Homo sapiens: one gene and its partner. The protein of the gene in region 1 binds, or shares a complex with, the protein of each later gene. Each region holds a gene or a part of one and is shown on either strand. Other genes may lie near its edges. The genes, in order: PEX19 and PEX14. A codon is read from its position in the direction of its gene.

Evidence for each region.
Region 2: the proteins of PEX19 (region 1) and PEX14 are in contact, whole or in part, in an NMR structure (PDB 2W85), measured with the Homo sapiens proteins. Residues at the interface, in NP_002848.1 of Homo sapiens: Gln67, Phe70, Phe71, Leu74, Phe75, Ser77; in NP_004556.1 of Homo sapiens: Leu28, Thr31, Ala32, Lys34, Phe35, Asn38, Ser39, Arg40, Val41, Ser44, Thr48, Phe52, Lys56, Leu58 (codon at 2,352).

What each region holds. Positions count from the first base shown.
Region 1 is NC_000001.11:160,276,097-160,282,203, reverse strand, and holds the end of PEX19 (peroxisomal biogenesis factor 19), read left to right. Parts: intron 1-3; coding exon 4-165; intron 166-1,957; coding exon 1,958-2,134; intron 2,135-2,358; coding exon 2,359-2,403; intron 2,404-2,569; coding exon 2,570-2,653; 3' UTR 2,654-5,397; downstream 5,398-6,107. UniProt on the Homo sapiens protein: Necessary for early peroxisomal biogenesis. Acts both as a cytosolic chaperone and as an import receptor for peroxisomal membrane proteins (PMPs).
Region 2 is NC_000001.11:10,596,889-10,604,168, forward strand, and holds part of PEX14 (peroxisomal membrane protein PEX14), read left to right. Parts: intron 1-2,349; coding exon 2,350-2,478; intron 2,479-7,280. UniProt on the Homo sapiens protein: Component of the PEX13-PEX14 docking complex, a translocon channel that specifically mediates the import of peroxisomal cargo proteins bound to PEX5 receptor.

The DNA of each region.
Region 1 (6,107 bases):
TAGAACTCCAGCATGTCGGAAGAAGAGCTGACCAAGGCCATGGAGGGGCTAGGCATGGACGAAGGGGATGGGGAAGGGAACATCCTCCCCATCATGCAGAGTATTATGCAGAACCTACTCTCCAAGGATGTGCTGTACCCATCACTGAAGGAGATCACAGAAAAGGTTTGTGAACTTCCATTTCTGCTTTTTCTCTTCATTTTCCATCACATCAACTGATGTGGGCTATTTTGTCTACTCAGAGCCTGCAGAAAGAGTAACTCGAGTGTGCTTTTTTTCCTTCTTTATTTATTTGAGGCAGGGAGAGTTGGGGGTTGGGGAGAGTTGTGTCTCTGAGAGAATAAAGCTGTCACACGGTATGTTGGGGTATAAGAGGTATAACGTTTGGGGTCTAAGAGGAAATCCTTCAGTTCTAGTTTTCTATAAACTGGTTCAAGACTCTGGGATTGTTGTCTGATCAATCTTGCATTTCTGACTTCATTTCTCCAGCAAGAATTTGGCTGGGCATGGTGGCTCATGCCTGTAATCCCAGCACCTTGGGAGGCCGAGGCGGGTGGATCACCTGAGGTCAGGAGTTCGAGACCAGCCTGGCCAACATGGTGAAACCCCGTCTGTAGTAAAAATACAAAAATTATCCTGGCGTAGTGGCTCACGCCTGTGATCGCAACTACTCAGGAGGCAGCAGGAGAATCACTTGAACCTGGGAGGCAGAGGTTGCAGTGAGCTGAGATTGTGCCACTGTACTCCGGCCTGGGTGACAGAGCAAGACTCCATCTGAAAAAGAAAAAGAATTAACTGAGGATTTACTTACTGGCTTTGTGATGTGAACAGTGTAAGCGTAGTTTAAATGATGGTCCCTGCCATAAAAGAGCTTATATGTGTGGTTGTATCATTTTGTTTTGAGACAGGGTCTAGCTCCAGTTGGAGCACAGTGGCACGATCTTGGCTCACCACAGCCTCCCCATCCCAGGCTCAAGTGTTTCTCCCATCTCAGCCTCCTGAGTGGCTGGGACTACAGGTGTGTGCCACCATGCTTGGCCAATGTTTTCAAAATTTTTTGTAGAGTTGAGCTCTCACTATATTGCTCAGGCTGGTCTCAAACTCCTGAGCTCAAGTGATCCTCCCACCTCAGCCTCCCAAAATGCTGGGATTACAAGTGTGAGCCACCACACCTGGCTAAAGAGTGTATAGTTTTACTGGAGAGATAAAATACAGGAATAGAAGCTTTTCAGTGACATGGGGAAATGTGGGTAAGTGTGTAATGAATAGTACAGACCACGAGTCAGCAGGCCAAGACCTGGGTGGGACAAATCCAACTCTCTAGCAAATAATGGTTTTTACATTTTTAAGGTCATTTGAAAAAAACTACAAAGAAAATGTGCAATAGCCGAGCGTAGTGGCTCACTCCTATAGTCCCAGCGCTTTGGGAGGCCACGGTGGACAGATTGCTTGAGCCCAGGAGTTTAAGACCAGCTTGAGCAACATGATGAAACCCTGTCTCTACAAAATACAAAAAAATTAGCCAGTCACAGTGGTGCACACTTGTAGACCCAGCTACTTGGGGAGGCTCAGGTGGGAGGATTGCTTGAGCCTGGGGAGATCGAGGCTGCAGTGAGTGGTGATCACACCATCACACTCCAGCCTGGGTGACAGAGTAAAACTCTGTCTCGAAAAAAAAGAAAAAAAAAACACAATAGAGACCATATGTGGCCCTTGAAGCCTAAAATATTCACTGTCTGGCCCTTTACAGAAGCTTACCAATCTCTGGTGACCATAAATGCTAACATGGCCAGGTGATCTGGTTGGAGTCAGTGCCGCTTTTCATGATGAACTTACTTATTTAGCTTTTCGTTTTTCTACGTCCCTTTCCCTTTCACATTTTAATCACATTGTTCTGATTACCCATCCATATCCATTGTTCACTTAATTCTTTTCCACCCATTCTCTCTTTTCTTAGTATCCAGAATGGTTGCAGAGTCATCGGGAATCTCTACCTCCAGAGCAGTTTGAAAAATATCAGGAGCAGCACAGCGTCATGTGCAAAATATGTGAGCAGTTTGAGGCAGAGACCCCCACAGACAGTGAAACCACTCAAAAGGCTCGTTTTGAGATGGTGCTGGATCTTATGCAGCAGGTAAGGCCTCTTGCCTTCTGCCCACTGGTGCTGTCCACTTAGGTGTTCAGTGAAGGAAGTATCTGGGAAGGATGCAATACTGCTAGACCTAGGTGGAGGAGGGATCCTCTCTTGTGATCTCTCTCAGAAGAAATAGAGAGATCATTCATTAGATTCCTCTTCTGGATCCTCTGTTGTTTTCTGGGCTTTTCTCTATTTCATGTTCCATTTTCCTTATTTTCTAGCTACAAGATTTAGGCCATCCTCCAAAAGAGCTGGCTGGAGAGATGGTGAGTATGTCTTATTTTTCCAGATTTTAATTTGAGTCCCCAATTTCCAGAATTCTTTAACCTCTCAGGATTCCACCTAAGGTGAAAATTGTGGCTACTGGGGATGGATCTTCACGTCTGTCCTAAAAAATGAGCAACTATCTGAGTCCCTTCATCTCTTCCCCAGCCTCCTGGCCTCAACTTTGACCTGGATGCCCTCAATCTTTCGGGCCCACCAGGTGCCAGTGGTGAACAGTGTCTGATCATGTGAAACACAACACGTTTTCCTCTCTGAGTCCCAGCTATGGGGAACATCTGGAGTCAGCAGAACCATTGGGACCTGAGGCAGGAGTGTCACCTGCGGGAGAAGTCTGCCCGCTGCCCTCTGTCATCCCATTCAAGATTGTGCCATACCAGCTGAGGTTTTTCCTCTGTCTCTCTAGGAATAGGGTCTGTTTCACAGGCCATTTCTGTGAACCCTACTCCATTGTGGTTTCTGCCACTATCAAAGTTCCAGCTACCTGCAAGGTGAAGGAAGGCATCCCTTTTGGGGCATGCACTTTCTTTCCTTTCTCAAAATAATGTTATATGTGGCCACACTGATGTTCACCTTTACGTCCAGGGTCTTTGTGCCTTGTCTCTACTCCCTCTCTTGGATCTGGGGAGGAGGGGCAGAGACCTGGGACTCTGTATTTCTATAGTTCTCCTGGCAGAGCCTTTGAGAATGGGGAGAAACAGCCTGGGCTGGGGCTACAGGTCTGTCACTATGCTCTCTTGCCTTCAGACAGACCATTCTGAATTCTCTAAAGGGAAAGGGCTTTTGCATCTAATCACAATAGAGTTGAAAGAGAGGCCTTAGGATTCTCCTCTCTCTAGGTGCTGAGCCCTCACCTCCCTGTTCCAGGCTGAGAACTCAAATGGTTACCCTGCTTCTTCCTACAATGCTGTGTGATATGGGTGAACCCAGCCCCTGACCTTCCTCTATCCCCTGCCCATCCTCCCTTTTACCTCCTCTCTTTTTTAAACACCTGTTTATCCCAACCTTTTTGAGCTCAAGCTGTGATAAAGAAGGGCCCATCCTATTTCCCCTCATCTAGTCCATTTACGATTCTCACTGACTCCCCGTCTTCCTGGCAGACACAAATAAACCCAGTGTCAGGTCTAGGAAATTAATGGCTATTCTTCCCCAGATACATTCTGGCTTATTTGAGATACATGATTCTCTTAGAATCCTGTCCCTTGGTTCAGGAAAGTAGCTTGGAAAAGGAGTAGGGGTATAGCTTGGGTCCCTTTTCCTGCAAGGCCCCATGGGGCAGAATATAATAAATATTCTGAGTGAGGAGTGTGGTCTTTTTCTGATCTTCCTCAGCTTCCGTAAGTTGCAGAGTGAGGTATATTAGGAGACTAGTTCTACACAATATTGTAATGCTGGGTTCCATCAACACCCACCTTCCACAACTCAGTCTGCACCTCAGTTGGCAAAGGAGACTGGATGGCCATCTTTCCTCATGTTCCCTTGAGTATTTCAATGTAGAAAGCCCTTCAAGTGGTATTATATTTTAACCTTTTACATTATTGTTATTAATGTTAGTAATATATTGTTATGTTTTCTAAATTATTTTTCTTTAAGCTGACGTGGCTTTTTTTCTGTGGCTCCCAGTGGGTCTACGGACCTTGGCTGACATATGTTGGTAGGTACTCTGGTCAGCTCAGCTGGCTGTCCTGGTTCACTCAGAAGATAAGTCTCTCCAAAGCAAATTCACATGCATTATGAGTCGCTTTGAGCTTCTGACATGTCACTTGCCCCGAGGTTAAAACTTTTCACCCCTTGAAGACCTTACATGTTTTATGGTATTGGTGAGGAAGGAAATGTTCTCAAGGTCTCAGGCTATTTGGGAAATTCCAACTCCTATACCTTACCAGAGCATGGAAGAGCCCAGATCTGAATGTAAAACGTCTCTGTTCTGCCAGAGATGGAAAAAATACAGGTATACTTGTGATATAGTCATGGGGCTTCAGTGTCACTATTTTCTCCTTAAAGCTCCAGCCAAAAACTGGACAAGGATAGAGAGGAGGAGGGAAGAACAAAAGAGCCCTTCTCTATGAACCTTGTGCCTTCTGTCCTACCAGTTTTCTTTTACAGATTCTCACTTCTGCTAGCCTAGCCAGGGCTTACTCCAGGAATCTAAATAGATGCCCTAGTCCACTTTATCTTTGTTCCCAAGGCACTCATTTTTATTTTGATTTTGATTGAATGTGAGCAGGTTGACCTCAGGTCACACTTTGTTCCAAAAACTTTTGGAATTATTCCAGGACTTGTGGTGGAGTTATGGTACTCTAGGGCAGTCTTTCTCAAACTATGTATGGTAAAGGACCAGGTTTTTTGTTTTCCAGTCCTTCACTTATCAATATGCATTCCTATTGCCCATGACAGGTATGGAGTTCACACTGTGTGCTGCCGACCCGGCAAGTTTGACAGCACCCAAACTGGCCAGACTGTTCTGTAGGTTAAGTCCATTGATCATGTACTTGGATATCACAGCAACATTGAAATGCTAAAAAGTTTTTAAACACTCTCAATTTCTAATTCACCATGTCACAGACTGGTGAAAAAAAAAAAAAGGTGTTCACTGACCAGCACAAGTCTGCAGATCATCTTTGAGTAGCACTGTTTTGGGGCCCTCGGTCTCTCTGAAGACCCTAGCAGAACTGATACCTACCTGTATCTCTTGTTCTCTCCTATTTGAGTTTCACTTCCAGAGAACTTGTTCTTCAGCAAGAATGTGTCACTAGTAAGGACATCTCTAGCATTTCTCTAGCCTTCCTTTTCTGCTGCTCAAAAATAATCGTTACAAAGCTTAGGTTTAAGCTGTATATGAAATATTTATGCGACTCTCAAACTTTAAAGGAGTTGCTCCTTTGTTCCAAAATTAAATGTGTTAGATAAATTTGTGATTGTATGGGTGGCTTCATGAATTAAGAATTGAATTAATACAGACTTTTTGATAATTGGGACATTTTCCTGTGACTCTGGAAGGTCTTGTCAAAGCCCCATGAGGCAGTTATAATATGATGTTAAGATGGCTTTGGGGAGCTAGGAGAAAACATTGGCCCATATTGAATGACGTGGAGACGGCAGACCATACAAAAAAGGACCAAAAGACTTAGAGGAAATGGGTATGCAAGAATGAATGTTATATAACACTGGTAAACCCACCAGCTGACTACCCCAGAAAGACCTGGGAATTATTTTTTAATAAAGACAATGGGAAAGGCACTGATGAAGGGTTACCAGCATCTTTGAGAAATTTAGAAGTGGCTGTCTCTCTAGATCGAAGCTGATACAAGATGTAAAAGAAACTGTTTTCCTAGTAGCAGTGGGGGAATGATAGGATCCTGACATAGCAGAGGCCAGGTGGCAACACTTAACTCTCAGAAGCAAGGTGAGTAAATTTCCTTAAGGGTAGCAAGGTCAAAGTGGAGATGGCTAACGGAATGTGAGTGGTCCTAGGAGCAGGATAGATGGGCAACCAAGAAGAGTATTGTCTTATATATAAGGGAGATCAAGAATGGTTGAACAGAAGGCTGAAGTCAGAAACTTCAAAGAAAAGTCCCCATTTCTTGTCCAGTTTTTAAGCCTGAGATAGTTCTTAGACTCATAAACTATCAATGGAAAGAGACATTTATCAGTTAATCATTGAGTGGAAAAGCACTGTTCATCCTCT
Region 2 (7,280 bases), about 150 Mb from region 1:
TGAAAAACAAGAGCTTGGAAGGAAGTACTGATGCCCTTTCAACTGTGGCCTCACTAGTGGGCTCGGCTGCGATAATGCAAGGAACATGTTTTATTAGGAAAATAGGCTTCATAAAAGCTCAGGGCCAGAGGGCAGAACTGCGGGCAGGGCGTCCTGTCCCTTTAACCAGCTCCGGCCCTCAGGGCCACAGCACAGTCTGTAACTTACTGTATATTTCCCCAGTGTTAAACATTATTGTACTTGTTTATATTTGAAAGAGCCAAAAGGGAAAATGAGAATGCAACTGAATGCTCCTTTTGGGAAAATTATCTTCATTTGCAGCCAGCGGCTGACAAGGCACACGAACCACCAGGTTTATAAAATTCCGTAGTGTACCAGTGACCATCAGCCTGTGCTGACATCGCAGATGCTGCTTTCTTCTCTAATGGCTGATTATGAACTGGTTAAAACAATGTCTTTCCCACCAGGGCTCCGAAAGGGGTTCCCCTTCCTGTTTAGTCGGAGCGATCGGCAGTCACTACACAGGCTGGAACCTGAGAGGCACAAACTCAGGGCGGGGGTATTCTCTGTTGTTGCCTGGCTTGCCTGTTGGTCCTGTCCCTGTTCTTCTTGGAAGGTGAAATTATGGGTAAAGCAGTCCCTTTGCAGCAAGCACCCCCTCTCTAGCTCCACTCTACTGACCTTCAGCTTTTGTCTTTGGAAGGTGGTACGTGATGCGCTGTGAACCCTGGAAGCATTTTCATCCAGCCCACCAATCTGTTGAGAGCATGGTGCTATCAGGGCAACCCGGTGGCTCTTCAGACTTCCCAGTGGTGAGGCTGTGCCTGCCCTTGGCCAGCTCCACTGTGTGAAGAGGGTAAAGAGGGGAACAGCTGCAGTTTTAAATGGGGATAGTCCTCAACTCCTCAGCACAGAGAAGGGAAAAAAGAGTCCAGGGCTGTTTAGAAAAGTTCGGGCATTTTCCTTTGACTAGCTGTGGTAGGGCATGAAAAGTTTGAGGGGTGGCTGCAGTCAACTCATATGCCAGTATGGTGCAGGGCGGAGCTGTGCTTTAAAGCATTAATGTGCACCATCTATTAGCCCCTAGGCATGGAGTATGAGGCACCATCCTTTTGAAGATGCTGATCCTCAGAACCTCCTTGTACTTCATCTACCCCCAGGGGCAAATATACCATGCTGTGGGCCTCTAATGGAGAGCTGCCGACCAGATGTGGAAAAGCTCTCGGCTGTAGTTTAAAAGCTCTGTGTTGCGGCTCGCTTGGATGTTGGGATTCCTGGAACAGCAAGGGCTGGCCGAGTGGTCTTTTGCAGACTAACAGTGACCTCCCACCTGCTTTTCCCACTCTCAGCAGCTGGAGTGCCTTTGTACACACAGCTACTTCCTGAGCTGGCCCCGTGTGACCGCTCCTTTCATACTTGAGCGCCACATTTCATTCTGTTCTTTGGGTTGGATGGGGCTCTCTTCCTCCTCCCAAGAGTCAGTGTCCCAAATTGGCTCAGACCCGGTGGAAATATCCCAGCTGTGTCCCCACTGGAAATGCGGCCTTCATGGGTTTTCATTTGCCTTTTATTCTTCTGTGGGCAAATCCTCTCCACATGGCATAGCCACTGCAGATGGCGCCCTGCCACTTCCTGATGTCCCATGTATGGTGTGGTTTAGAGTGTCGGGAGGATTTCAAGAAGGGAAAAGAAAAACTAGCCAAAGGCGATACAGGCAGCGTGTGATAGGCTAGAATAATAATCATCTGAAAGTTTGGGCCTGGCCTTGTTTTGATCTGTTTTCTTGTTTTATTTTCTTCTTTACATTCTATATCCCATTCATACTAATCACAGTCAGTCCTGATTTTTCTTTTTATTTCTGCATTTGTCATAAAATAAAGCAAATTATTCCCGTCTTCAGAAACGATCTAGACTAATTAGTCGTCTCACCCAATAATTAGTTTTTTGTTTCCCTGTCTGTTTTCGTGCATTATTGTTAGTTTTTTCCCCTCTTTTTTTTTTAACACCATTACAGATTAAAATGAGCCACATTTGCAGTTGATGGTATCTGTTTTCGGGGGAAGAATGGAGAATTGCAGTACCGAGCGACTTCAAAAGCAGCAATAAACTCAAGGATAAATTAAGGAAATTGAATGAGCCACATTTGGAAGCAGTGTTGAGGCTAATATTCTGTCGCTTAAGGTTAAATTGCAACTGAGAGAGGTTCCGGAGAATCTGAAATCGGGGAGGCAACTTACTAGGATGCGAGGCATTCTGTGGCTGTAAAGGTCTTTGCTCAGTGAAGATTCTGTTGCAGCTATGGACACTGACAAAAGGTACTCACCTGCAATGATGTCCTCTTCTCCCCAGGGCTGACAGATGAAGAGATTGATATGGCCTTCCAGCAGTCGGGCACTGCTGCCGATGAGCCTTCGTCCTTGGGCCCAGCCACACAGGTGGTTCCTGTCCAGCCCCCTCACCTCATATCTCAGCCATACAGTAAGTCACCCGCTCAAACTCCTGCTTAACCTTGATTGGGATTCAGGACTCTGGCCAAAGGGCAGTGTTCTGTATCTCCCAGACTTAGCAAACCAGGAGAAACTGGGAGCAGCAGAAAGCTCTTGGGTTTTTCCCAAGGAATGTGACACACCCCAGTCTTCTAGACAAACTTTTTAAAGTATGTGACAAAGGTTTAAGAAGAGACAAGGGATCAGAATAAATGATTTTATTGTTGTTTCAGGTATTTTGGTTACATGCAGAAAACCTGTACAACTATTTATTGATTCTGTTCCCATCTCCTCATACCAGTGCTTTTGAATGTTACTGTTTCACTAAAAACAGCGTGACCATCTGACTCATGGGTGCATTCTTGTTTGCTCACTGCAATAACCTGTCTCCCACTTCTATTTTTTTAAGTTAATATTTGTAAGTTTAGGTCAGCCTCCATTTCCCTCCCTCCCTTGTCCTGGCTATACTTTGTACGTTTATGTAGTAGCGGTCTGTTAGGGAATTTCAGGTTAAAACATGAAGTTCCTTTTTGAATGTTTCTTTTAATTATACGAGATCATGACCCATGAGGGGTCTTTCGTTGTCTTAAATGAAAGCTACTATAGGAATAAAGTTTCTTCAAACAAGTTATAAATGCATACCTCCAAAATGCAGCCAGAAGCCCTCCTTGAAATCACTTATAAAAAGTTTAAAAAGGCTAAAATTGACTACAAAGTTATGGAAAATAGCTCCATTTTGTTTCTTTAATGAAACTCAGCATTGGGCCGGGCACGTTGGCTCACGCCTCTAATCCCTGCACTTTGGGAGGCTGAGGCGGGTGGATCACCTGAGGTCAGGAGTTCGAGACCAGCCCGGCCAACATGATGAAACCCTGTCTCTACTAAAAATACAAAAAATTAGCCAGATGTGGTGGCAGGCGCCTGTAATCCCTGCTACTCAGGAGGCTGAGGAAGGAGAATTGCTTGAACCCGGGAGGTGGAGGTTGCAGTGAGCCGAGATCGTGCCACTGCACTCCAGACTGGGCAACAAGAGCGAAACTCTGCCTCAAAAAAACAAACAGGCAGGGTGCAGTGGCTCACATCTGTAATCCCAACACTTTGAGAGGCCAAGGCAGGCGGATCACTTGAGGTCAGGAGTTCGAGACCAGCCTGGCCAACGTGGTGAAACCGTGTCTCTACTAAAAATACAAAAAATTAGCCGGGCGTGGTGGCACACGCCTGTAATCCCAGCTCCTTAGGGGGCTGAGGCAGGAGAATCACTTAAACCCAGGAGGTGGAAGTTGCAGTGAGCCGAGATCACGCCGCTGCACTCCAGCCTAGGTGACAGAGTGAGACTCTGTCTCAAAAAAAATAAAATAAAATAAAGAAACTCAATACTGGATCTGTGATCTCTCAAAATGCCTTTTCTATAATTGTTATTCTCAGAAGTTTTATTTTTGCAAAAAATGATTTAAAACTGTTAGATATCAGATTTTAAGGCCGGGCGCAGTGGCTCCCGCCTGTAATCCCAGCACTTTGGGAGGCCGAGGCGGGTGGATCATGAGGTCAGGAGTTCGAGACCACCCTGGGCAACAAGAGCAAAACTCCATCTCAAAAAAACAGACAGGCCGGGCGCGGTGGCTCACGCCTGTAATCCCAGCACTTTGGGAGGCCAAGGCGGGCGGATCACTTGAGGTCAGGAGTTGGAGACCAGCCTGGCCAATGTGGCAAAACCCTGTCTCTAATAAAAATACAAAAATTAGCTGGGCATGGTGGCGGGTGCTTGTAATCCCAGCTACTCAGGAGGCTGAGGCAGGAGAATCGCTTGAACCGAGGAGGTGGAGGTTGCAATGAGCTGAGATCATGCCATTGCACTCCAGCTTGGGTGACAAGAGCAAGACTCTGTCTCAAAAAAAAAAAAAAAAAAAAAAGTGTTAGATATCAGATTTTAAAAGGCATATTTTAAAATGACAGATTCGTTTTGATCCCCCAGCACCTGGTCTGAAGCTGCCTTCTTTCCCTCACCTCAGCACTGTTTTCATCCAGCTCAGCTGCAGCTAGGCAGGTGTGATCTTGGCAGTAGAGCCAAAAAGGCCTTCTCTTCTCCGGACTTGCTGAAGGGCCAGCCAGTGGGTTGGAATCTGCTGTCTGTGTTACGGATCTTATTTAGAGATCTCCTCCTTTGGCTGTCCACAGAAGGCTGAATGGGGGAGGCCAGGGAGTGTGTGCTCAAGTGTGTCAATCTGTCAGTGCCTTGCATGGGTGACCCACTGCAGGTTGCAGAGCTTCAGTGGTGAGCCTTGTCCTGTATTTGGGCTACTGGGTTAGCACCTGTGACTTGTCAGCTTGGGGCTCCTTTCTCCTTCCTGGCCAGCATTTTTTCCAATCCATTGTAGTTGCTTTGGGTCCTAAGCTGACTTTATGTGCTTCTTTTTAACCAAAGGCTGAGTCTCCACACTTTTTCTTTAGTTGTGTCCCTGGGCCCAGCCGTGTAATGGGATTTGTTGAGGATAGGCAGCGGCAGCTGGGGTGCAGAATTTTCTAAGATGCACATCTGTTCTGTTCCAGCTGTTTCCTCCAGTGGCTTAATACCGAACAGGTCTCTCGGCTACTTGGAAACTTCTTACTCAGAACAAATTGTTCTGGTTGATCACAGAGTTGGCCTAAAACATCATATGTTCACCTACTTTCCATAGACACAAAGGGTTAAACTGTTAGTCTTTCTGAAAGAGGCAAAAGAATGGGGTGGGGAGGGGCAATTCAGTTATTTAAATCATACTCATGTCCAGATCGCTCTGAGAAAAAGCAATACACGTTGAGGTATTTAGGTAGGAATATTTTTAAGAGCCTTCCAGCCCCTAAAAATAAAATACACATTCTTAGACACAGACTTCTTCCTGCTTTGACACTAGTGTAAAAACAATGGTAATGATAATTTTAAATACCTGAAGTTTTTAGTTGTCATCATTGAGCTTCATTCTTCTCATACCGTTACATTGCTCCTCTCACTCCGGGGGTGACTCTACCTCTTCACTTCTGTACTTTTGCCAAGAGGTGTCAAAACTGCTTAAAAAAAAAAAAAGCTTGATTTTGATTAATATAGAGAAACAAGACTTTGCCTGACTGATAATAAAACTGATAAATGACATTTGAATTACTTGTAGCGGTAATTTATTACATAAAATATCTTTTATTTGACATGCGATTAGTTGCTGGAAGCATCACTCAATCTGACTAGTTTAAACATGCTCCAAAATGAACCCCAGTAAAAACCAGGGCTGTCTGCTGCTGGCATTATGAAATATACTAATCCTGGAGTGAGGGAAAAATCTGACTTTAAATATTTAAATGATTAATTGGGTTTATATATTTTTTTACTTTTCTAACCCCCTTAATTACAAGCAAACTCAGGGGAGTTTCTGAACTAGGTGCACAATCTGCATGCTTATCACTGAGGCATTGTCTGCGTCGGGAGGGATTTATGGCCTCTATTCATGTGTGTTCCTGCCGATTTTACATCTAGATCCCCGGCAGCCTTTTCCTTCCCATTTCTTGGCTTTTTACGGACATTCCATCTCTGAGCCCAAGGCTAGAAAATGGGATCCCCTGGGCCTAGCCCCAAACACTCAGGTCTCAGGGTAGGGTAGCTTTTCCAAGACCACCCCAGGGAGCCCAGTGCTCTTCACCTTTGAACCTGCTGGCCCACCTGCTCAGTGGCAGGTGTGCCACTGAGTGCCTCTTTTGGCATCTCTGTTCTTTGGTGAATGTGGTTGACCTTGAGATGTTAGCAAATGCCAGTGTTGGCAGAGAGAACGTAGAGACCTGCCCAAATAGTAACAGTTCAATTTCTCAGTATTTTTATTAACCATCTACTATACGGTCAGTACTATATCATGCGAGAGATCCAAAACCTGATCTTTAAGCATCTTGCTAAGCTCTTTGGGAAAGATAAGATAAACTCTTAAGAAAAGGATAATAATATAAGATGTTGTGATTTAATGCCAAAATTAATTATACAGACAAGAAATTCTGAAATTCTGAAATATAGAAAAGAGAAGAATTAATGTGGGCTAGAGTCAGGGAAGGCTTTTGTGAAAGTGATAGGAGGTTGGCACCAAGGGGAAGCTTGGTGTCACCTGGTGTGAGCATAAACCAGTGCTCTCGGGGGCTAGAAGAAAGTTGGTACAGTTCAGGAGAAGTCAGGCTGTGATTCGAGAGAAGATTTGAAATTCTCCATTTCTCATTTTGGTTTCTTGTCTGGCTTTACATCGGGAGTCAGTGCATGTGTATAGGTGCAGGCCTAGCCCAGTCCTGAGCAGAGGTCTGATAAATGCTGGTTGATTGATTCACGCCAAGCTGATTTGTCTTCGTCCTCCCAGAGAGACCAAGAAGCTTTGAGATATAAGCAGGACCAGTGTAAATTTTGTAGGATAATAATTTCTTCTTAGATTTGAACATTTTCCCTCCACTGTCTTTGATAAACAATTTAAACCCCTTCAAAGACTGACCTAGAGCTTCAGTTGCTTCTTCTCAAAATAGGATGTCAGCATCTGAGGCCGGTGAAAGGTTTTGAACCATTTGATTAGAAATCCTGAGAGAGAGTGAGTTATTCCTCTGTTTATTTCTTTTGTAGCCCTGTGTAGTAACACAAACTTATCTGTGGTTATCTTAATTCACTGAGCAAGCATTGTTATTGAATGCCTACTGTGTGCCAGACCCCTGGGCTAAAGAGACTAACAAGACCTGGTCGCTCTCTCTGGTTGCTCCCGTCTGGTAGGAAAGACGGTTAGGCCAACATAGCAGTGCCTGTCAGGT